7 linked regions of the Homo sapiens genome follow. The protein of the gene in region 2 purifies or fractionates together with the protein of the main gene of each other region. This does not show direct contact. Each region holds a gene or a part of one and is shown on either strand. Other genes may lie near its edges. The genes, in order: MYH4, HSPB8, RGPD5, VPS33A, NUDT12, LONRF2 and USP34.

Evidence for each region.
Region 1: the proteins of HSPB8 (region 2) and MYH4 purify together in Homo sapiens (affinity purification with mass spectrometry; one large-scale study listed by BioGRID and IntAct). This does not show direct contact.
Region 3: the proteins of HSPB8 (region 2) and RGPD5 purify together in Homo sapiens (affinity purification with mass spectrometry, with the first as the bait; one large-scale study listed by BioGRID). This does not show direct contact.
Region 4: the proteins of HSPB8 (region 2) and VPS33A purify together in Homo sapiens (affinity purification with mass spectrometry; one large-scale study listed by BioGRID and IntAct). This does not show direct contact.
Region 5: the proteins of HSPB8 (region 2) and NUDT12 purify together in Homo sapiens (affinity purification with mass spectrometry; 3 studies listed by BioGRID and IntAct, with this or other methods). This does not show direct contact.
Region 6: the proteins of HSPB8 (region 2) and LONRF2 purify together in Homo sapiens (affinity purification with mass spectrometry; 2 studies listed by BioGRID and IntAct, with this or other methods). This does not show direct contact.
Region 7: the proteins of HSPB8 (region 2) and USP34 purify together in Homo sapiens (affinity purification with mass spectrometry; one large-scale study listed by BioGRID and IntAct). This does not show direct contact.

What each region holds. Positions count from the first base shown.
Region 1 is NC_000017.11:10,459,560-10,463,059, reverse strand, and holds part of MYH4 (myosin-4), read left to right. Parts: intron 1-91; coding exon 92-195; intron 196-2,005; coding exon 2,006-2,144; intron 2,145-2,738; coding exon 2,739-2,857; intron 2,858-2,958; coding exon 2,959-3,108; intron 3,109-3,500. UniProt on the Homo sapiens protein: Muscle contraction.
Region 2 is NC_000012.12:119,188,931-119,192,088, forward strand, and holds part of HSPB8 (heat shock protein beta-8), read left to right. Parts: intron 1-3,158. UniProt on the Homo sapiens protein: Involved in the chaperone-assisted selective autophagy (CASA), a crucial process for protein quality control, particularly in mechanical strained cells and tissues such as muscle. Displays temperature-dependent chaperone activity.
Region 3 is NC_000002.12:109,797,305-109,800,804, reverse strand, and holds part of RGPD5 (RANBP2-like and GRIP domain-containing protein 5/6), read right to left. Parts: intron 1-3,500.
Region 4 is NC_000012.12:122,238,995-122,242,494, reverse strand, and holds part of VPS33A (vacuolar protein sorting-associated protein 33A), read left to right. Parts: coding exon 1-113; intron 114-2,549; coding exon 2,550-2,617; intron 2,618-3,500.
Region 5 is NC_000005.10:103,550,573-103,552,789, reverse strand, and holds part of NUDT12 (NAD-capped RNA hydrolase NUDT12), read left to right. Parts: intron 1-373; coding exon 374-573; intron 574-1,818; coding exon 1,819-1,929; 3' UTR 1,930-2,217. UniProt on the Homo sapiens protein: mRNA decapping enzyme that specifically removes the nicotinamide adenine dinucleotide (NAD) cap from a subset of mRNAs by hydrolyzing the diphosphate linkage to produce nicotinamide mononucleotide (NMN) and 5' monophosphate mRNA.
Region 6 is NC_000002.12:100,319,702-100,323,752, reverse strand, and holds the start of LONRF2 (LON peptidase N-terminal domain and RING finger protein 2), read left to right. Parts: upstream 1-1,251; 5' UTR 1,252-1,659; coding exon 1,660-2,338; intron 2,339-2,371; exon of another isoform or gene 2,372-2,564; intron 2,565-4,051.
Region 7 is NC_000002.12:61,464,588-61,468,087, reverse strand, and holds part of USP34 (ubiquitin carboxyl-terminal hydrolase 34), read left to right. Parts: intron 1-3,500. UniProt on the Homo sapiens protein: Ubiquitin hydrolase that can remove conjugated ubiquitin from AXIN1 and AXIN2, thereby acting as a regulator of Wnt signaling pathway.

The sequences.
Region 1 (3,500 bases), on a different chromosome or scaffold from region 2:
AAGAATAACAGCCCTTCTAAGAAGCCTCTCTGAAATGTTTTTGATGACCAAAGCAATGCTGTCTATATACTGTTCTTTTCCATGTGTTCAGAAATGCTTCTGATCACCACCAACCCATATGACTTCGCATTTGTCAGCCAAGGGGAAATTACTGTGCCCAGCATTGATGACCAGGAAGAGCTGATGGCCACAGATGTAAGTAATAGGTACAAAGTAGTAAAAAGTAAATTCATTTTCCAGTGTACAACACTCTCCTCTATTAGGGTGGAAAGCAGTGGCAGAAAGACTATAAATAGGTAATACAACCCTTTGGGCTTTCTTACTTTTGGAAAAAAATTGTAGGATATTTCAATACCCTCCCCCTACATGTGTTAAAAAGCTTTCACTGCCTGTAATAAATGTTGGGTCTTTAGTATTCCTTAGCTAGTAGGCTCCTTTCATTCTATCTTTCTTATTAGTCATTTTTGGTTGATATTTATGCTCCAATATTAATGTTTCTCTGCTATTTTATGCCACACCTCACACCCAAGATTCTGGGAAGGAGCTGCAATATTATTACAACTAAACATGGAACTCCCACTGTTCTTCTACAGTCACATGTAAACATAAGCCTTATTTTGAATAAACCTCTGTGGGCCAATGATATATCCCTCTCTACTCCCTAAGCAGCATTAGAAGAAGTGGGTTGTCTACTTCAAAAACACTCATTTTGGGGACTCCATAAGCCTTTATATTTATTTTTGAAACAACGCACTCTCTCCCCACCATCACCTCTTTTTTAAGGATTATTGCTTTTTGGCTTACTTTCTTTATATGTAAACTTTATGTATATTTCATGCTTTCTTTTGATTTCTGAATAATCTTCCTTATTTTTAACTTTAATATCAGTGGGACTATCCCAATACCCCCAAGTTAGAGTTGACAGTGCTTGCAAAACTGCTTTTTCTATTAAAATATTATTTTCAAGAAGTCAATAATTCATTTGTGTGGCTTTATATTATAAATATCAGCTTTAACTCTCTATAACTTATTATTATCTTTGTATGTCCAAAAGTGATAGGGAGTTAAGAAACACACCCTGGTCTGCGAGGTTAAAAAAATGTAGCAGTCTTGCTCTAAGACTTCCGTAATAATGTCTAGTTTCTGTAAATAGGTAGAGTTAGTGAGCTGGAAGTGGAAGTCAATAATCTGGGGAAAGAGTCTTAGGTAAGAATGGTAAATAAACATATTTTCCTCTGCCTGCTCTGAATCCTGCCCCCATTTATAAGCCTTTTCAAAGCCTATGTGGGCAACTAAAAAGGTAATCAAAATTCGATAGAGAAAAAAGACACAGAAATATTATACTAAATGGCAAAATTCCTTCTTTTCATAAATGTCTCTTCTCTGCATGAGAAATAAATAACTAGGTAAAGTTTGCTACCCCAGGCATCTCGTGGTCGCTGAGCTGTGGCTTGCTATCAGAGAGGCATGTGGAGAAAGACTCACAACCATTGCTGTTCTCCTCATACCCTCTTTCCAACTTTATCACTCATGCCCATTAGCAGGGGAAGGTAGACTGGGATTATGCATTAGGATAGGACAAATAGGAGAAGAAGGAGCAACAGAGAGACTCGTGAGACTGGAGAAAAGAAACAAAAATAGCCAAAAGACCAAGAGGAGCATGTGCCTGAGAAGCAAAGGGGGGCTGGGGTGGAGAAAAGGGGCAAAGCACTGGCCTTGGCATCAAAAGTCATGGCTCTTAGTCCTGGTTCAGTGAGTGTGGACAAGTCACATCATATGCTGTGACCAAATGGACTCATGACTCAAATGGAAAGACTGATGCATACCTCTTCGTGTTGCCATGTGGATCAAAAGGTAAAGCATATGAGTACCTTTTGAAGATGGCAAAGTGCTAGTCAAATATAAGGCAAGGCGTGATGAGAAAAAAGTGGGAGACAGCCCCGGTGTTCTGAGGGATTCTTCCATGGTGCTAATTGGGGATGAGCAAATTCAACTCTTTTGACAGAGTGCTGTGGACATCCTGGGTTTCACTGCTGATGAAAAGGTGGCCATTTACAAGCTCACTGGAGCCGTGATGCATTATGGGAACATGAAATTCAAGCAAAAGCAAAGGGAAGAGCAGGCAGAGCCAGATGGCACGGAAGGTACCACCCCCTGTTGGTATCTTCCACTTGACAAAGCTGACATAGTGAACTTTTCAGAGGCAGGGACCGTGTTTTTACTTTCTCTGACCTAGCTCGTGAAGGGCAAAAGTATTACGAGAAGGAAATTACACACTGCCTGACGTTTTACATTATTTAGCAGATTTGTGATTTCTGCTCATTCCATTATTCATTGGCTTTTCATAAGCTCATATTTGCTATTTGACTAAAACATATTTTATTTCAGGATAATCTGTGTGCCCACAGGCACTGAAAGAAACAGAGATCTGAATATTTCTGTCACTACTCCTCTAGGTTAGGGTTTCTCAAATTATTTTTATCTGTGGTCTACTTTTGCCAGGTTAAATATCACAGACAGCATCGATTCCCCAACCTCCAATTTATCATCACAAGAAATGACTAAAATTAGTGCAAGTGGTGGCAATGCTTTTGAGGCAATATGAACAAATGAAAAGGTTTCAATGACATTTGCACATCTTACTTTTTGAGTGAAACCTTTTTTCTTTGTCATCATCATTTACATTTTAAATTGTGTAAGCCATGGTCAGTTTCACCATTCTCACCTTGTTCACACAGTTGCTGACAAAGCTGCTTATCTGACAAGTCTGAACTCTGCTGACCTGCTCAAATCTCTCTGCTATCCCAGAGTCAAGGTCGGCAATGAGTTCGTAACCAAAGGCCAGACTGTGCAGCAGGTAAACATGACTTAAATTGTCTGATTTATTTGAACCGCAAGTGACTCAGGAGTTCATCACTGTTTTCAATTTAAAAAACTAAACTATCACTTCTGTTGAAGGTGTACAATGCAGTGGGTGCTCTGGCCAAAGCCATCTACGAGAAGATGTTCCTGTGGATGGTCACCCGCATCAACCAGCAGCTGGACACCAAGCAGCCCAGGCAGTACTTCATCGGGGTCTTGGACATTGCTGGCTTTGAGATCTTTGATGTGAGTAGTGAACTGACAGAAAATTAGCCAGTGCAAATCCTCTTGTTAGAGCATACAAAATCACATTTACAAAATGTACCTTACAAAATATACAAATGTAATTCCTACTGAAAGGAGTCTTTGAAAAGATATGAAAAGTAAATAGGTATAAATAGGAAAAGAGAAAATTCTATTCTTTTGAGTCTAGAAGTCTCAAAAGTTGATCCCTGAGAGGTTAAAATAGTCAAAATCTATCCTGGATCCAAGCAGATGAGCATGAGAACACCTTTTTAAAATTACTCTAAGGAAATATTTCAGAGTCCTCATTTAACAGTATTTTGCCTAGTATGCATGATCTCATGCAGTTACTTGGAAAATAAGTATTCAAAGAATCAATTCTACTTTGTTTAGAA
Region 2 (3,158 bases):
AGAGATCACACTAGCTGAATTCTGAGGCTTCTTCCAGCTTGGGATTCTACATTCCTGTCTCTTCCCCCACATGTCCGTCCCTGGCCCTCCCACAGCCTCTGCAGTTCTTGGAAGCCTGTGGACACTTCCTGATAAGGCAAACGCCAAACCATTTGTTCTTCGTGTTTGCTGGCTTGCCTGGCATCTCCGTGCCCCACACCTCTCCCTGGTTTAGCAAGCAGATTAAACATTGCTGAGGGAGAGGAAGGAAGGCAGGGGGTGGGGGGAAGCTGATGTCAAGGCTCAAATGAGGTCTCAGGGTGGAGTCACAAGCAGGGCATAGCTGTAAAAGGGACTGTGTAAGAAAGAAGTGAATTAATCATCTTAAAAGGGGTGTGTGTGTGTGTGTGTGTGTGTGTGTGTGTGTGTGTGTATTTCACATGCTCCAAGGCCTTAGGGGAGATAGCTTGCTGGAAGTAACCTGATGAGAAATGCCTGAAATTGCTCCAGGCTGGTGCTCAGCTGCTGAGCTGGGCTAGTTGTTAAAATATTCAGTGGTCCCCAACCTTTTTGGCACCAGGGACCAGTTTCGTAGAAGGCAATTTTTCCATGGACTGGGGAATGAAACTGTTCCACCTCAGATCATCGGGCATTAGATTCTCATAAGAAGCATGCAACCTAGATCCCTCGCATGCACAGTTCACAACAGGGTTCAAGCTCCTATGAGAATCTAATGCCACTGCTGATCTGACAGGAGGCGGAGCTCAGGCAGTAATGCTGGCTGAACTGCTGCTCACCTCCTGATGTGAAGCCTGGTTCCTAACAGGCCACAGATGGGTGCCGGTCCATGATCCGGGGGATGGGGACCCCTGAATATTGGCTAGCTATTGCCCTGAGCCCTCCCTAGCCAACCCCAGTCACTCTGATCTTGTCCCCAGGACCCTCTAAACCTCTCCACCTTCCAACAACTAAAGGGTCCCAGGACCCTCCTCCATCACTATGACATGCACCCATCCCTTCTGAATGGTCAGTGCCCAGCTGCACTAGTTGTTAAATATTTTGAATCTCAGCTCCGGGTGCAGGGAGTCCTGGCTCCATGAGAAAGTGAGTGGGTAACTTGGGGCAACTTGCTTAACTGCTCTGACCTTCCATTCCCACATCCCTGCATGGAGGGGTTGTGATGGGAGTGAGAGGATGTGTATAACGCATTAAGCATGGAATACAGACTCAGGGCTTGGTCCATGGGAATTAATATTATGAAAAGGCTTCACAAGGCTGGACTCACACTCCAGCAGCTGGGACTCCTGGGAGCTCCTGGCTCTGCCCAGACTCTAGACACCTAGGAGTCGAACTGGGGTCTGGGACACCTCTGGACCAATCTCAGGAGTCCTCGTTGCCTCCTCTCCCAGGGAAAACTCCAGTCATTAGAGGACAGGGAGATTCCTTCAGCCAGGCTGAGATCCTTGGAGATTTCCACCCAGGCAGGATGCTGCAGCTGTTTGCCTTAACCATGGCAAGGAAATTCATCTCAACACATCCATCTCTGTGTGAAAAGCCCCATTTGGACTGAATAAGGAGGAGAGGGAGAGGTCTTGGGTCTCAGCTTTCAAAGTCCATGATCTTCCTATTTGGTTAGGGGAAACCAAATTACAGTCATTTGCAATACCGTCATTCACATCCCATCTTCACTATTTTTTGCCTTATATGCTTACATTGCTGTACCATGATTTACTAAAGGTTTTTTTTTCTTTTAGATCATCTCATTTTTGATAAAGTTAAATTCTTATCACTGAAATGTTCACTGAGGAAAGCGATCATGAAATAAATCCAATGAAAGCAAACTGTGGTTAAATTCTAACTAGATAATATTGCCTGCCTAAGGGCCTCAGCTCTCTCATTGTTAAAAAGGGAAGGTAGCAAGTGATAGAGGCTAAAGGCGTTAAAGGCATGTTAGTACTTAGCAGAGACATTCCTTCAGATGTAAGTAGAAGCACTGAAAGAGAACTGAAGAGGAATTACTTTCCCACCAAATGGGTTTAAATACAAGTCACTTGGTTAGAGACCTTGGACTTGTCTATCTCTCTGAGTTTCAGTTTCCCCATAAGTAATATAAGAGCATTGTCATGGACAATCAGGAAGATCCTTTGGGGCCCTGATACTCTGTGGTTCAATGATCCTGCAATTTGTATGATACTCCATCTTGCTGTCAAGATGCCAACATGTAAGGTCAAAGACTGCAACGTAATTCTCACTCCACCCTAAGAGGTGGGTACTATTATTGCCCCCTTTTTTTCTGCAAAGAAACAGGTTCAAAGAGTCAAGATCACCAGCCCCATGTTGTGTGGTCAGGAAGAGTCAGAATTTGAATGCACGTCAGCCTGCCTGCAAAACCCATGCTCTAGGCCATAGCCACCCTGTCACACTGTACCTGGTGTGCACTGGGTTGGTGTGCACATGGTTAAACAGTCAGCCCATCCCCAGCATTGGGAGGGAGGTCTAAACTTTTGACTTTGTCTCCGCTTCAAAAGCTTGACTTGGCAGCTTTCTAGTTCCCTCTTTTTCTTCCAAATGGGCTTCCCAGAAGCAGCCTTGTTCATCTCCATGGTTCCAATCTGGCAAGGAATCTCCTGGGTAGATACGGCTCATGTGGCTACAGGTTGTTGTACCCACAAAAAAAGAAAGAAAGAAAGAAAAAAAAAAAACTCCCCAGCCCCTCCAGAAGGAGTCCTGCCTATGATCAGGAATGGGCTTACCTCATGCCTTGGTTCTTTCATCAAGACCCTCGTATTTACAATAGGCAGAGCCAGCAGGGATCAGTGGAAAGATTTTGATTGAACTGCCGGTCCTTCCTGCCATAGTCCTTCTTTCAAATGTCTGGTGCTGGGGGAGGCAGGAGAGCATCATGGTCAGATACTCTGAGTTTGGAGACCAGGATTCCAATTCCATTTCCTATCTGCCATTTGCCAGCTGAGCAACCTTGGGCAAAGCAGTTCACTTCTCTGAGTCTCAATTTCCTCATCTGTAAGATGGGGATAGCAATGGAATCTGCCTGGTGGGATTATTGTTAACACCAAAATGATATGATTCAGCTAAAGTACCTGGCACATAGAAAGTACTCAGAAGGTCATGGATTTCATGGTTAAAAAAAATAATGGCACCCCAATGAGATCACTAATATG
Region 3 (3,500 bases), on a different chromosome or scaffold from region 2:
TAAGTAAGTACTTAGGATCTATTAAGGCACTGAGGATTCCCGGGTCCATGTACTGTTCTCTCTACAGATCAGATCAGTATTTTACAGTCAAGGAGTCAAAAAGGCAGAAATAAATATTGAATTCTTCAAGTAATAAACGAGGTCCACAGCCTGGATCCTTGGTTACATAAACTCCAAAGTCCAAAATGCTGATGCACACCAGGCTGGGTGCGGTGGCTCACATCTGTAATCCCAGCACTTTCGGAGACTGAGGCGGGTGGATCACTTGAAGCCAAGAGTTCGAGACCAGCCTGGCCAACATACAGAAACCTCCTTTCTACTAAAAATACAAAAATTAGCTGGGCATGGTGGCACACGCCTGTAATCCCCGCTGCTTGGGAGGCTGAGGCAAAGAATCGCTTGAACCCGGGAGGCAGAGGCTGCAGTGGGCCAAGATCGCACCACTGCACTCCAACCTGGGCAACAGAATGATTCCATCTCAAAAAAAAAAAAAAATGCTGATACAACCAGAGTATGTTCCATCCATGTGATAGAGTATACAGCTACTCAAACATCTTATTTTTGAAATTCCAAGACCCCAGTGAATGTCCAAAAACGATGAATAGTACCAAACCAGGTTGCCATCAATCGAAACATGCTTCCTGTTTGTGTCCTCCACCCACAAATTTAATGTCTTGTCCATCTCAACTAAGCACTTATCACACACTGTGGCTGTAACTTTTGCAGTTTGGGGTGTCACAACAAAACTAGCACAAATTTCTTTTTCCTTCTTCACAATTTCATGGACAAAAGATTTGTTCTTACCATAGATCTCAGCAACCCCAGTATATGATCTTTTTTCTTTCCTAAGTCAAAAACTCACCTCTTCACTTAAAGGAAGCACTATATGGCTTCTCTCTGGCATATGTGAACTGCCAGCATCACTATTCTTGCTCTTTGGTGCCATTTTAAATAAAATAAAGGTTACTTGAACACAAGCACTGCAATACTCCAACAACTGATCTGATAACTGAGATGGCTAGTATGTAACTAGCGGGTGGGGAGCACATACAGCATGAATATGTTGGACAAAGGGATGATTCGTGTCCTGGGTAGGACGGAGCAGGAGGCCGTGAGATTTTTATCATGTTATTCAGACCTGTTTGCAATTTAAAACTCATGAAATGTTTATTTATATAATCTTCCATTCAATATTTTTGGACCACGGGTGACGCAGGTAAGTAAAACCACGTAAGGCAATACTGTGGATAAGAAGGGACTACTGTACCAGCAACGAACAATCAGAAAATGAAATTAAGAAAGCAATTCCATTTACAATCGCATCTAAAAGAAAAAAATGCCTGGGAATAAATGTAAACAAGGAGGTGAGAGACTTGTATGCTTAAATTACAAAACCTTGCTCAATGCCAGGCTAACACCTGCAATCCCAGCACTGGCGACAGAGCAAGACTCCGTCTCAAAAAAAAAAAAGAACTATAGCAATCTTAACAAAAATAATACACAACAGTCAGGACAGCACATAAAGGAACAAGGCCTGTTCCCCCCTTCCTTTTTTTTTTTTTTTTTTGAGATGGAGTCTTGCTCTGTCGCCAGGCTGGAGTGCGGTGGCTCGATCTCAGCTCACTGCAACCTCTGCGTCCCGGGTACAAGCTGGGACTACAGGCGCATGCCACCATGCCCAGCTAATTTTTGTATTTTCAGTAGAGATGGGGTTTCACCATGTTGGCCAAGATGGTGTCGATCTCTCGACCTTGTGATCTGACTTCTTCCGCCTCCCAAAGTGCTGGGATTACAGGCATCAGCCACCGAGCCCGCCAGTTCCCCCTTTTCAAAATGAAGAAATAGATTCAAGGTACAATGCCAAAACATAATAGAAAAATAATTCCATTACCTTCTTTGCTTCCAACTATGTTAAAACATAATAGAAAAATAATTCCATTACCTTCTTTGCTTCCAACTATGTTATTAAAGTAGACAATCTTAAGATAATTAAACAACTTTACAAATTATTCTTCTATATGATCTTTTGCCTCTAACCTGCTCACTTTACAAGGGAACTGAAGCTCAAGCAGGCAAATGCCTTGTTTAAAGATATACAGCTAGAAAGGAGCACAGCCCATGTTATGTAAACAGGACAATATCTGATGCAAGCAGTACTTCTTTACATGACAGCAGATGTCACTATAAGCAAATACCTGAATTCACTTAAGCTGTCAAATATCAAGAACTGATGCAGGGCTGAAAACAGGAACAGTAAGACCCTAAGAGATGCCACATCATCGCTATCTTGCACAGTAAGATAGAGATGTAATTGTAATTGTCCAAAACTTAATATTTGTGGCCTACTTTTTCATTATGCAGTTCTAAATTTCTCTCTCTTTTTTTTTTAATTCAAACGGAGTCTCACCCTGTCGCCCATCTTGCACAATCAAATGAATCTCCCTCCCCCTAAAATCCTCCAAAAAAGCTGCTGTTCTCAACAAACCCATCTGATCAGCTCCAAATCTGTGGAGTCCCAACAAGGGTGAAGGCCGTGATTATACAGGACAATGAGGAAAAGTCTAGATACTGAACCATGAGTTCCCCAATCTTCTTCCCCTGGAACATAAGGGTAAGGAAATCTCTCAAAAGGCAGAACAAACAAAAGAGGAGAATAAGAGAAAAATTAGAGAAACTCCAGCTTTCAGGTAAACATCATTAAAAAAAAGGGTAAGAAATGGTTAAAGAAATAATACAAGAAATGCTACAGAACTGAAAGAAATGAGTTTCCCAATTGAAAGGACACTTCCAGAAAACCTTTAAGTTACCAAGAACAAGAATCTCATGGGACTCCTAACAACAGAACTTCTAGAAAATGAAGCAATGCTTTCAAAATTGCGAAAAAAATTATTTGAAACTCAGAATTCGATAACCAAATGATCAACTAAATTAAGTAAAGATGTTTTAAAGACATACCATTAGTTTCTAGACCAGCCTGACCAGTATGGTGAAATCCCATCTCTACTAAAAATAGAAAAAATTAGCCGGGCATGCTGGCGCACACCTGTAATCCCGCTACTCGGGAGGCTGAGGCAGGAGAATCACTTGAACCTGGGAGGCGGAGGTTGCGGTGAGCTGAGACCATGCCACTGCACTCCAGCCTGGGCAACAGAGCAAGACTCTGTCCCATAACAAAAACAAACAAAAAAACCTCTCATCCACTTTTCCTCAAAGCAAGTGAGACTATGCTACACCAAAACAAAGAAAGTAAATGAAGAGGACATGAGATACAAGAAACAAAGGGTCTAACTCAGAAAAAAGATGAAGGGAATTCTCAAACTGGTGATAAAGGGAAGTCCCAAGAGCACAGCTGTGTAGCAAAGAGGAAGAAAAACCAATCCGGGTTGGAGAAGTTGGTTAGTAAGGGTATTCCAGGTAGACAGACAATCAATCAATCAATCAGTGTTTTAAGCTGAAATTGATGGGATTATCTGACCAGTTTGACCACATTTGAGGGTTTA
Region 4 (3,500 bases), 3.1 Mb from region 2:
TAAGACCGTGGGGGAGATCAAGCAGTTTGTTTCCCAGTTGCCCCACATGCAGGCAGCAAGGGGCTCGCTTGCAAACCATACCTCAATTGCAGAATTGATCAAAGATGTCACTAGTGAGTATCCTTTGTAATGATTGTTTCAGTCTGGGGCTACTTGCACATACAACGTTTGACACCTAGGTCATCAACACCACAATGCCTCTTCGGGAGAGTCAGCTCTGTCTTAATACCACGTGTTCTTCTCAGTGTTAATGAAGTATACATATGTTAATAGTTAAGGATATTCCAGGCGGGGCATGGTGGCTCATGCCTGTAATCCCAGCACTTCGGGAGGCCAAGACGGGCAGATCACTTGAGGTCAGGAGTTTGAGACCAGCCTGGCCAACATGATGAAACCCCATGTCTACTACAAATACAAAAATTAGCCAGGCACAGTGGTATGCATCTGTAGTCCCAGCTACCTGGGAGGCTGAGGCAGGAGAATTGCTTGAACCTGGAAGGCGGAGGTTGCAGTGAGCCGACATCACGCCACTGCACTCCAGCCTGGGTGACAGAGTGAGACTCCATCTCGAAAAACAAAACAAAAAGAATGTTCCATTTGTTGGCCAGGCATGATGGCTCACATCTGTAACCCCAGCACTTCGGGAGGCTGAGGCAGGCAGATCACTTGAGTCCAGGAATTGAAGACCAGCCTGGGCAACATGGCGAAACCCTGTCTCTACTAAAAATACAAAAATTAGCTGGGCATGGTGGCACATGCCTGTAGTTACAGCTACTCAGGAGGTTGAGGCATGAGAATCACATGAACCCTGGAGGCAAAGGTTACAGTGAGCTGAAATCACGCCACTGCACTCCAGCCTGGTTGAGCGAGACTCCATTAAAAAAAAAAAAGACTGGGCGAGGTGGCTCATGTCTGTAATCCCACCACTTTGGGAGGCCGAGGCAGGTGGATCGCCTGAGGTCAGGCATTCGAGACCAGCCTGGCCAACATAGTGGAACACCATCTGTACTAAAAATACAAAAATTAGCCAGGTGTGGTGGCGGGCACCTGTAATCCCAGCTACTCAGGAGACTGAGGCAGGAGAATTGCTTGAACCGGGAGGCAGAGGTTGCAGTGAGCCAAGATTGCACCACTGCACTCCGGCCTGGGCGACAGAGCAGGACTCCATCTCGAAATAACGAAAGAAAGAAAAAGAGAAAGAGAGGAAGGGTCCATTTTTTAACTCAAATTTTTTCATTATCATTTATATGAAAAATATTTGGAATGTAGATAAGAGAAAAAAATTATCCATAAGTTTGCCATCATAATCTGAGATGGTTAATTTTTTTAGTCTAGCTTTTTTTCTTTTTTTTTTTTTTTTGAGACGGAGTTTCACTCTTGTTGCCCAGGCTGCAGTGCAATGGCACAATCTTGGCTCACCGCAACCTCTGCCTCCCGGGTTCAAGTGATTCTCCTGCCTCAGCCTCCCAAGTAGCTGGGATTACAGGTACTTGCCACCACGCCTGGCTTATTTTCTATTTTTACTAGAGATGGTGTTTCACCATGTTGGTCAGGCTGGTCTCAAACTCCCAACCTCAGGTGATCCGCCTGCCTTGGCTCCCAAAGTGCTGGGATTACAGGCATGAGCCACCGCGGCCAGCAGCTTTTTTCCTTTTTTGAAGGATTACTTATTGGCGCATGTTCTTCCCTTGAATATTCTGTGCAGAATTGGTACAAAGAGTATATGTTGAGTATTTTGAAAGAGCTCAGAAGACATCTATTAAAGCAGACATGAGTTTGTTTGTTTGTTACAACACAGGGCTGTAAAAGCTGAGTAGGAGATTGTTTTATGAAGTATACTTCGAATCTTAAGTAAATCACAGTTATCGGAAAATCAGTCCTTTGTTTCCCTGTTCATAGGAGTGGAAACCAGTTGAAATTGGGTTGAACCTAATGATGAAAATGAAATGTTCTTGAGAAATTAGCTTTCATTCATACTGACGCTCATTCTGGGGTCTGTACTGAAATCCTAAGGATACAAAAGAGTGCACTTGTCGACTGTATCTAGTGTAACTTAGGAGTGCAGAGGCCTAGCGTTTTCCATGTTTCCTAAAAGATTTTCTTCAGGTGATGACTTGAACTTATTGCTTGCTTGCTTTTTTGCATGATGTCTGGTTTCTTTTCTTTTGAGACAGAGTCTCGCTCTGTTGCCCAGGCTGGAGAGCAATGGTGTGATCTTGGCTCACTGTAACCTCCGCCTCCCCGCCTCAAGTGATTCTTGTGCCTTAGCCTCCCGAGTAGCTGGGACTACGGGTGTGTGCCACCATACCCAGCTAATTTTTGTGTTTTTGGTAGAGATGGGGTTTGGCCATGTTGGTCAGGCTGGTCTTGAACTCCTGGCCTGAAGTGATCCACCCACCTCGGCCCCCTACAGTGCTGAGATTACAGGTGTGAGCCACCGTGCCCAGCCACATGTCTAGTTTCTGAATCGTGCTCTGTGTATAAAAGCATGCCACTCAAGTAAATTAACATTTAATTTCTAAGTTGCAAATTTGCTAATTTCATTTTAGCTTCTGAAGACTTTTTTGATAAATTAACCGTGGAACAGGAGTTTATGTCTGGAATAGACACTGATAAGGTATGTGGACAAAAAAACCTCTTTAACAAGTAATTGAAAGCTTATTAAACCTCAGATTATAGCCAGAAAACCAATTGCTTTGATTCCCATGCCTTGCCTTTTTTTTTTTTTTTTTTTTTTTTTTTTTTGAGACGGAGTCTCACTGTGTGTCACCCAGCTTGCTCTGTTGCCCAGGCTGGAGTGCAGTGGCGCCATCTCTGCTCACTGCAAGCTCCGCCTCCCGGGTTGACGCCATTCTGCCTCAGCCTCCCGAGTAGCTGGGACTACAGGCGCTCACCACCACACCTGGCTAATTTTTTGTATTTTTAATAGAGACGGGGTTTCACCATGTTAGCCAGGATGGTCTCGATCTCCGACCTTGTGATCCGCCCACCTTGGCCTCCCAAACTGTTGGGATTACAGGCGTGAGTCACTGCGCCCGGCCACTTAAATATTTTTAAGAGCAAATGCAAAATGTGCAAGTGTAGATTTTATCAAGTAACAGATATTTAACATTATTCTGTGCAAGACACTTTCTGCCATACATGGCAACATGAGACCTGGCCCCTAAAATCAAATCTTTTTAAGACTGTATTAGATAAGGTATTTGCTCTTTTGAAAGAGTTTCTTATATAACTCCTTTAAATAGCTCTATTAACAAATTTTAAATTATTCACTTTATGAAAATTCCTAACATAAAACAATTACTGATACTTTTTGCTAGATTAGTTGTTGATACTATTGAAATGGAGTAGACATCTGGTAGCCTCTCAGAAGCGTGTCCTTAGAGACAGACGTGTCCAGACAGGCATATGGAGTGACCAATTGTATTCTCAGCGGCCTTGGGCTCCAGTGACTTGGCCTGATCACTGGGGGGTGTGTGTGTGTGTGTGTGTGTGTGTAT
Region 5 (2,217 bases), on a different chromosome or scaffold from region 2:
TAAAAATCATGTAATTTATAACTATTTCGTGGACAATATATACATGAGATAAGATATAAAGTGTTTGCATAGTGTTTAACCAGTATTAGGTATTGGATATTTTTAGATGGTATCATTATTTTTAAAATGTAACTGACAAATTTGTACCTTAAAAAAACGAAAAGTTTATTGTTGGCATTTTGATATTCTATATGTGGTCATGTACTTTAAAAAAATTGTTTTCTTCAATTACAGTCTAGTTTTAGGCTTCTGCTTTCTGATTATTTGCATTGGGTTTCTGTCCAAAGTGATTTCCAGATGTTTGAACCATTCAGGACACAAAGTGTCCCGGGCATGTTCATCAGCAACTTGTTCTTTTGCTCCATTTCATTAGGAGAGACAATAGAAGATGCTGTTAGGAGAGAAGTAGAAGAGGAAAGTGGAGTCAAAGTTGGCCATGTTCAGTATGTTGCTTGTCAACCATGGCCAATGCCTTCCTCCTTAATGATTGGTTGCTTAGCTCTAGCAGTGTCTACAGAAATTAAAGTTGACAAGAATGAAATAGAGGATGCCCGCTGGTTCACTAGAGAACAGGTAAAGTTCAATTTAATTTCCTTCTTCTATTGATTGTTCCCTGACTGTATTGGTTTGGTCACAGAGCAAGGATGCATATTTTCAGCAAGTTGAATGATGCCTTTGGCCCTCTCATTATGCATGGATTACATGGTAATTAGTAATTCCATACAGGAGGAGTATGTTTCACTAATGTGATCTATATTAACTTATTCTATGAGATTTTTCTAGTAGAGATGATTCTGTACCATTTCGAGTTTCAGATTCCATTCCTTCACATAAATAATAATACCTATCAGTGGGTTTAGAAAAACATTAATTCATAGATGAGAAACAGGAATATTCTTATACATTTTATATTTTAGTTTATAACATTAAAACAAGTAGCTCTCAAAAAACATCAGTAAGTGCTTAAAATTTTCAGAAAGTTTTTATTCATTTTAAAATGTACTTAAGGACAAGAATGACATAACTGTATAATAAACATACACTTAAAATAACTTTCTAAAATGTCATTCCTAAATAATATATTAAAAGATAAATTACTCATCTGACCTGAAATTCTTTCTGACTTTGCCTGCATAAAATTAATTTTATTCTATGCTTAATCCTAAAAGATGGAAATTAGATTATTGCTTATGAATTTTATAAAAAAGAATCTGTTTCAAAAGTTGGCTTTGCTTAGAAATTAAGTGTGGAGCGTACATTTTGCTTTTTCGTGATGTCATTTTCATAAGGGAATGTGTCTTTCTGGAACATTTTAGAAACTGAATCACTTACTCAGTGAAGCAATTAAAAATGCTGTCCTAAATTTTGCATGTTGAGGCGGGGCGTGGTGGCTTATACCTGTAATCCCAGAACTTTGGAAGGCCAAGGCAGGAAGCTTGATTGAGCCCAGGAGTTTGAGACTAGCCTGGGCAACATAGGGAGACCCTGTCTCTACAGATAATTTTTAAAAAGTTAGCCAGGTGCACCTATGGTACCAGCTACTTGGGAGGCTGTGGCAGGAGGATCGCCTGAGCCCAGGAAGTCAAAGCTGCAATGAGCCATGATCCCACCACTGCAACTCCAGTCTGGGTGGCAGAGTGCAAGACCTTGTTTCCAAAAAAAAAAAAACTTTGCATGTAAATATGGATGTTGTCACTTTCTACTGTTGTTATTCACTGTAAAACTCATCACATTTTAATTGAATTATGTAAACATGGGAATAGTATTTAAATATGACAGCTTTGAAATCCTAATGCATTCTATTATGGTGTGTTTTAGGTCCTGGATGTTCTGACCAAAGGGAAGCAGCAGGCATTCTTTGTGCCACCAAGCCGAGCTATTGCACATCAATTAATCAAACACTGGATTAGAATAAATCCTAATCTCTAAATCTAAGAACTAAGCTTTGAGTATTATTTAATAATTTCTAATAACACTCATTCCTCAAGTGATATTAGAGATTATTCAGTACTCTTGAGAGTGTCACAACACAAAATACGATGTTGGGTTTTCGAAATATTTTCAAAGTGTTCTGTCTTAATCACAAATTCATATTTTTACACATTTTTACAATATTGCCTCAGATTATGTTAAATTTGGGTCAGTCTTCTCTGAACTTTTTCTCTCTTGGTTTCTTTTCTTCCTTCACAGTTTTATCTCACAAAACCATTTTTCTAA
Region 6 (4,051 bases), on a different chromosome or scaffold from region 2:
TTCTGTTCTCTTGCTAGATATTTGTCTAAAATAAGAACAAATAGGATCTGAGATCATAAGGTTTCACAATCTTTACTGTATGGTCTGTGCTCTGAAGCTTTTTCCCCATTGCTTCCTGATTGTTGGTTGTGAATTTGATGGATAAATGACCCTCAAATATAAGTGAATTGTTATTCTATAAAGAAAGCAGATAAAAATCCAAACAGTGATTGAAAAAGTGAATTTGAAATAATTCAGTAATGAAAAAGAGACCCAAACAGTACACTGTTATCAATTAAGTTAGGTAGACAGCTGGGGGAAATCCTTCATGGAAAAGGAGGTGGGTACTCTGCATTTGTTTATTGTAGAACTAGAGGGCTGGCCAAAAATTGCCCCTTTTTCCCTTTTAGGAACTGGTCTAAAATGTTCTCTCACTTAATGAGGCATTTCTCCTTTCCCAAAGCCAGATGTGGTCGAGGTATTGTATATTTTCTTTAGCCAGCAGTTTTAGATGTAGAAAAACCTCTCCAATTTTTTAAAAAAATTTATTCTTGAAATATGAACAGTAGTATGAATTCTAGAATATTGTAATGCATTTTATTGTATTCAAATACACAGGATAAAACAGATACTGTGACGACAGGAAGAAGGGAGCAGGCTACATAGGAGAAATACATAGGCTATATAGGAGAAATTATGAACCCGGTTAATACGCACAGAGGATTTTAATTTAAACCTTGCTTGTACACCAACGGAGCGTTTAGCTCCCTCTCCCCAGCAACTTATGTCTGCAGTACTCCATACTAGGGCACCCTTTCTATTTCTATTCTAATTCTATTAATTAGAATTCTATTTCTAATTCTATTTCTGCTTCCTAATCAAGGGCACAATACAATTGTCCACTTCTCGAATCCCTCCTCCTCCTGGTATCTGGTTCTCTTGGCCCTCCACGTTCTCTGTTAAAATGAGTTCTCAAAGGCCTCAGCCTAGAGTTAAGAGAAGAAGCTCGCTGAGGCGGGGCCTCTGGGTGCCCACTTCAGCCTCCCCAGTCATTTAGGACAATTTCCTAAGTCGAAGCTAGAGATGCGTGATGCGTTTGGTGACTTTTCCTGGGTTCTTGCTTAAGCGGAGCCACAGGTTGTGGGGGCGGCCAGGCCTCTGGGGAAGAGCAGGTGCCGCGGTGCCGGCGCGCCAGCAGCCCGCGGCCAAGGCCACCTGCTCCCAGGGCCCCGGCACCTCTGCGGGGAGGCGGCAGGCAGAGGACGCGCGCGCAGTCGCGCAGGAGCCCTCAGGCGAGTGGGGGAAGCATCGCAAGAGACGCGGACCTGGAGCGCGGTCACTGCGTTACCGCAGCGACCTGGGTTACCTAAGCCGGCGGGACTGAGAGGCCGCTGCGCGTGGGCAGGGGCTCAGATTGCGCCCGCGGTGCCTGTCCCGGCCCCCACCCCGGAACGATTGCAGCCCTGCGGGGCTCGCCGCCCACACCGCGCTGAGGACGCTGCCCAAGCCAGGCGCCCGCCCCCGCCCGCGGTCTCAGCCGCTCGCAGCGCGCCGCCCCCAGACGCGCGTGGCTGCTGGCGAGGGCTGAGACCGCGCTCCCGCCGGCCAGTTCCCAGCAGCAGCGCATCCTCCCTGCTCCGCGCCTTCGCTCCGGACCCGCGTCGTCGCAGCCCCGCGGTGATGAGCCCCGAGCCGGTCCCGCCGCCGCCGCCGCCCCAGTGTCCTGGCTGCGACCGCGCGGAGCCGATCGCCCAGCGCTTAGAGGAGGGCGACGAGGCCTTCCGCGCGGGCGACTACGAGATGGCAGCCGAGCTCTTTCGCTCCATGCTAGCCGGGCTGGCGCAGCCGGACCGCGGCCTGTGCCTGAGGCTGGGGGACGCGCTGGCCCGCGCCGGCCGCCTCCCCGAAGCCCTGGGCGCGTTCCGCGGCGCCGCGCGGCTCGGGGCGCTGCGGCCGGAGGAGCTGGAAGAGCTGGCGGGCGGCCTGGTGCGCGCCGTGGGCCTGCGCGACCGGCCGCTGTCCGCGGAGAACCCGGGCGGCGAGCCCGAGGCGCCCGGCGAGGGAGGGCCGGCCCCGGAGCCCCGCGCGCCCCGCGACCTGCTCGGCTGCCCGCGCTGCCGGCGGCTGCTGCATAAGCCGGTGACGCTGCCCTGCGGGCTCACAGTCTGCAAGCGCTGCGTGGAGCCAGGGCCCGCGCGGCCGCAGGTGCGGCGCGTGAACGTGGTGCTGAGCGGCCTGCTGGAGAAGTGCTTCCCGGCCGAGTGCCGGCTGCGCAGGCTGGCAGGCCAGGCGCGGAGCCTGCAGCGCCAGCAGCAGCCGGAGGCCGCGCTGCTCAGGTGCGACCAGGCCCTGGAGCTGGGTGAGTCGGCTGCGGGGCGGGTCCGCCTCCCCTACACCTGTCCGGCCCAGCAGCGGGGTGGGGAGCTGGCCGGTGGGCCCGAGGCTTTGGGCTTTCGAGAGCTTTGTCTAGGCTTAGGGGTCACTTTGCTTCCTAAGGATGGGAAGGTGAAAGGTGGGGGCGGCCACACCCTGCAGCCAGGAGAGGCCAAGTGCACCCCACTGGTTTTGTCTTTTCCAGGATGCTGGTAAGTTTCCCGCGGCCCCCGGAGCAGCTCTGTAAGGTCCTGTAATTGCTTTTCGGCATCTTCTGCGCTGTTGAGGAGCGGGGAGGATGACGAAATATTTTTGCTCATCCTGAAGGAAAATGCACATAGCTGACACACTACAGGCGCAGAAAGGGGTGCCTTGTGCTGGGGCAAGATTTGCTTTGGGTTTCAGCTAATATAGCCAGGAAGGAACCGCCTCCACTCTGCTGTAATCACGTCAAACGCTCCGGCTCTAGCCTGCTCTCTGTCTCAGAGGCCATCATTAGATGTCATGGCGTATTTAACTTACTAGATAGTTACACTGACTAGTGTGTGTAGTTTTAAATTGTTCATTCAGTCATTTCCTTATTTATCTGAGGCCTAAGGCCAGCAACAGGCACTCTCCTGCCTTCACCCAGCCACCACCTGTTAACACTATTTAGCTGAAAGGAAGACCAAACTTCTGTCATCGTTTTGGCTTTGACATATGAGTATGCGCTCTATTGGCAGTTGTTTTGGGCAGTGTGAGGAGGACGGTTTGCTTTCTGGTTTCACCGGTTTTATAATAGGGCATATACGATTTAAAGCACTAGCCGAGAAGACTTGTTGAATCTCTTGTTACTAAAATAATCTACTACCATGCTGTAGTCAGTGCACATTTTATTTTAAACTTAGGATTAAGGTTTTCCCTTTTAGAAGGCACAAATTATAAAGTGACTAGCATTCAATTTTGTCTTGCAAAAAAAAAGATCCAAATATTGAACAAGTGTTCAATATCTGTATCTAAATTGGGATATTCTCTGCTGGAATAGAGCACTTAACTCAGCTTTTCTAACGAGTATTCTGTAGTTTTTGCAACCAACATATCCATACTTTAACAGGCATATTTTTTAGTTTTCTACTAATTTAGGTATTGATGGTGTTAGAGCAGCACTATCCAATTAGAACTATTGTGTAAGCCACACATAATTTGGGATTTTCTTGTAGCTACATTAAAAGGGTGAAAAAAGCAGGTGAAATTTATTTTAGCAATTTTTAACCCTATACATCCAAAATATTATTTCAACATGCCTTCAATTTTAAAAAATAATTGAGATTTTACTTTTTTAAACTAAGCCTTTGAAATTCGTTATATATTTTGCATTTACTGCACTACCCAATTCCAACATCAAATTTTCATCAGAAATACTTCATCTGTATTTAGATGTTGGAGAAGATGTAGAAAAATGAAAACTGTGATATTTATATGCTGCTAATGGGACTGCAAATTATGCCCCTGAAAAATATTTGGTAGTATCTACAGATGTTAAGCCTGTCCTTGGCCAAATAGTTTCAAAGAGGTATATGCATATGTGCCCCCAAAAGAATGTGCAATTAGATACAAGAGTGTATGTCATTGTTAGAGATACCCCAAAAGTGCACACAACCCAAATGTCCAGTAAGAGCAGAAGGGGTGAATATATGATTATGTTTTCATAGCATACTAT
Region 7 (3,500 bases), on a different chromosome or scaffold from region 2:
GAACATGAGTGGTTGGAGCTTGATAAAACTTGTTGAAGTAGATTATATGTGTTTCTTGTGATCTCATTTGCAGTAATTACCTATAAAGTCTGCCCTTTTCCCGCCTGTACCTTGTACAAAGATGAGCATCAGTTCAACGTTGATTTAGAAATTCAGAGTTGGCCGGGCAACTCTGAATACAGCTCACGCCTGTATTCCCAACACTTTGGGAGGCCGAGGTGGGCGGATCACAAGGTCAGGAGCTCGAGACCAGCCTGGCCAATATGGTGAAACCCCATCTCTACTAAAAATTCACCAATTAGCCGGGTGTGGTGGTGTAGGCATCTGTAGTCCCAGCTACTTGGGAGGCTGAGGCAGGAGAATTGCTTGAACCCTGGTAGGCGGAGGTTGCAGTGAGCCGAGATCATGCCACTGCACTCCAGCCTCGGCCACAGAACAAGACTCCATCTCAAAAAAAAAAAAAAAAAAAACAAAGTTACAGTCCTCCCAAAATGTGCTCAGAATTCATCTTTAAATACGACACCCTGTAACAGTTTAGCCAGCTGAGAGAAGCAATAAAATTGTGCATATTTTTGGGTGGTGTGTTTCCAGGTCATGCTGAAAAATACGTAATTAGTATTAAAGCAACCTCACAAAACAGTCAGACGTGGTGGTGCGCCCCTGTAATCCCGCCTCGGCAGGAGGCTGAGGCAGGAGGATTGTTTGAGGCCAGGAGTTCGAGACCAGCGTGGGCAACATAGTAAGACTGCTTTTTTTATTATTATTATTTTTTTATTTTTTATTTGGAGACAGAATCTCGCTGTGTCACCCAGGCTGGAGTGCAGTGGCACGGTTTCGGCTCACTACAACCTCTGCCTCCCTGGGTTCAGCAATTCTCCTGCCTCAGCCTCCCAAGTGGCTGGGATTACAGGCACACGTCACCATGCCCAGCTAATTTTTGTATTTTTAGTAGAAACGGGGTTTCACCATATTGGCCAGGCTGGTCTGAACTCCTTACCGTGTGATCTACCCGCTTCCGTCTCCCAAAATGCTAGGATTACAGGCGTGAGCCACCGCGCCTGGCCAAGACTGCTGTCTTGAAAAAACAAACCAAAAACACTGTTTCTTGTGAAATTAACAAACAGTGATCACACTTAGAGAAGGCTACCTGGGCAAACGAGTGTAATAAATTTTTTTTTTTTTTTTTGACACGGAGTCTAACTCTCACCCAGGCTGGAATGCAGTGTCGGCTAGCTGCAACCTCCACCTCCCGGATTCAAGTGATTCTTCTGCCTCAGCCTCCTGAGTAACTGAGACTACAGGCACCCGCCTCCTTGCCTGGCTAATTTTTGTATTTTTAGTAGAGGTGGGATTTTGCCATGTTGGCCAGGCTTGTCTCAAACTCCTGACCTCAGGGGATCTGCCTGCCTGTACCTCCCAAAGTGCTGCAATTACAGGAGTGAGCCAGCATGCCTGGCCTAAAAATTTTGTTTAAAAAATTTTTAGTTGATAAATAATAATTTTACATATTCATGGTGTACATAGTGATGTTTCAATACATAAAACGTATAGTGATCAGTTGAAGTTAATTAGTATATCCATCTCAAACATTTAGCATTTGCTTTGGGAACATTCAGTATCCTCCTAGCTATTTGAAACTGTATCATATATTATTGTTTTTTTGAGATAGGGTTTCTTTCCCATTGCCCAGGCTGGAGTGCAGTGGTATGCTCTTGGGTCACTACAGCCTCCGCTTCCTGGGCTTAAGCAATCCTCCTGCCACATCCTCCCAAGTAGCTGGGACTACAGGCATGTGCCACCAAGCCCGGCTAATTTTTGTATTTTTAGTAGAGATGGGGTTTCACCACGTTGGCCAGGCTGGTCTTGAACTCTTGAACTCAAGTGATCTGCCCGCCTTGGCCTCCCAAAGTGCTGGGATTATAGGCATGAGCCACCATGCCCGGCTTGTATCATATATTATTGTTAACCGTAGTCATTCTGTAGTAGTACTTATTCCTTCTATCTCACTGTAATTTTATATTCTTTAACAAATCTCTCCCTATCCCTCCCCTCCCTCTACCATTCCCAGCAAATTTTGTTGTGTTTTTGTTTATTTTATTTTATTTTTTTTTGAGACAGAGTCTTGTTCTGTCACCCAGGCTGGAGTGCAGTGGCGCCATCTCTGCTCACTGCAAGCTCCGCCTCCCGGGTTCACGCCATTCTCCTGACTCAGCTTCCCGAGGAGCTGGAACTACAGGCGCCCGCTACCACGCCCGGCTAATTTTTTGTATATTTAGTAGAGATGGGGTTTCACCATGTTGGCCAGGATGGTCTCGATCTCTTGACCTCGTGATCCACCTGCCTCGGCCTCCCAAAGTGCTGGCATTACAGGCGTGAGCCACCGTGCCTAGCCGTGTTTTTGTTTATTAATAGAGACAGGGCCTTGCATTGTTGCCCAGGCTGGTCTCAAACTCCTGGTCTGAAGCCATTCTCCTGCCTCAGCCTCCCCAAGTACTGGAATTACAGGCATGAGCTACCATGCCTGGCCAGTTAATTGTGTTTTAAATGAAAGGGTAGACACAAGTGTGGGTAGTATAGCTTTGTATTAGATATGCACAGACTTTTTGATAAGAGTAAGGACTTAATGTGGAATGTTTAAAGTTTGGCAGAATGCAGTATCGTTAAAAGTAACAGATTATGAACAGTTCGTTTTGTCATCAGTTTTTGGTGAGAGTATTAATATTATTAGTTATACCTCTAGTCCTGAGAATCTGAAGCTGTAAACTTTCACTGTGGAAACATGCAGAGGCATACAGACACAGAATTGTGCTTACAGGTTGAGGACCCGTTGAAGTTTGTTCCTGGAACCAGACTAAGGATCCTATCATAAGTACCCTTGCCCCACCACACCCACCCTTTTTAAATATAATCTTGACACATATCATAAAAGTTGAAACTACATTTCAAAATCATATTTGGCTTTAGTGTTAGAATAACCAATCCCAACAATACTAAAATACTGGACTTGCCATTTTCTTTTCATGCTTCATTTTAAAAACATTTAAAAAGCTTGGATGTATTGAGTAAATTTTGCTGTTATCATTTTGTGGGATTACATTCTGTTTAGGATAAATTTTAAATTTCTGTTCCTCTGCTTGTTCTGTTGAGTTTGTCTGATAACTGCTTTTGTAGTTACTTTTGTGAACCAGTTTACAAAGGCCAAAGCATTTCTAGATCTTGGTGAGGAGTTGGAGGCTTAAAATTACATGCTTTAGGCCATCACCATAGCAAACTCACTAGTAAACTGAGGTTATTTACCTCGTAAGGTAAATTTCTCTGAAAGCAGAGTGAAAATTACATAGTACCTCTTTTTTTTTTTTTTTTTTTTTTTGAGACGGAGTCTCGCTCTTTCGCCCAGGCTGGAGTGCAGTGGTGCGATCTTGGGCTCACTGCAACCTCCGCCTCCTGGGACTACAGGCGTGAGCCACCACGCCTGGTGTACGTCATTGTTTTAAACCACT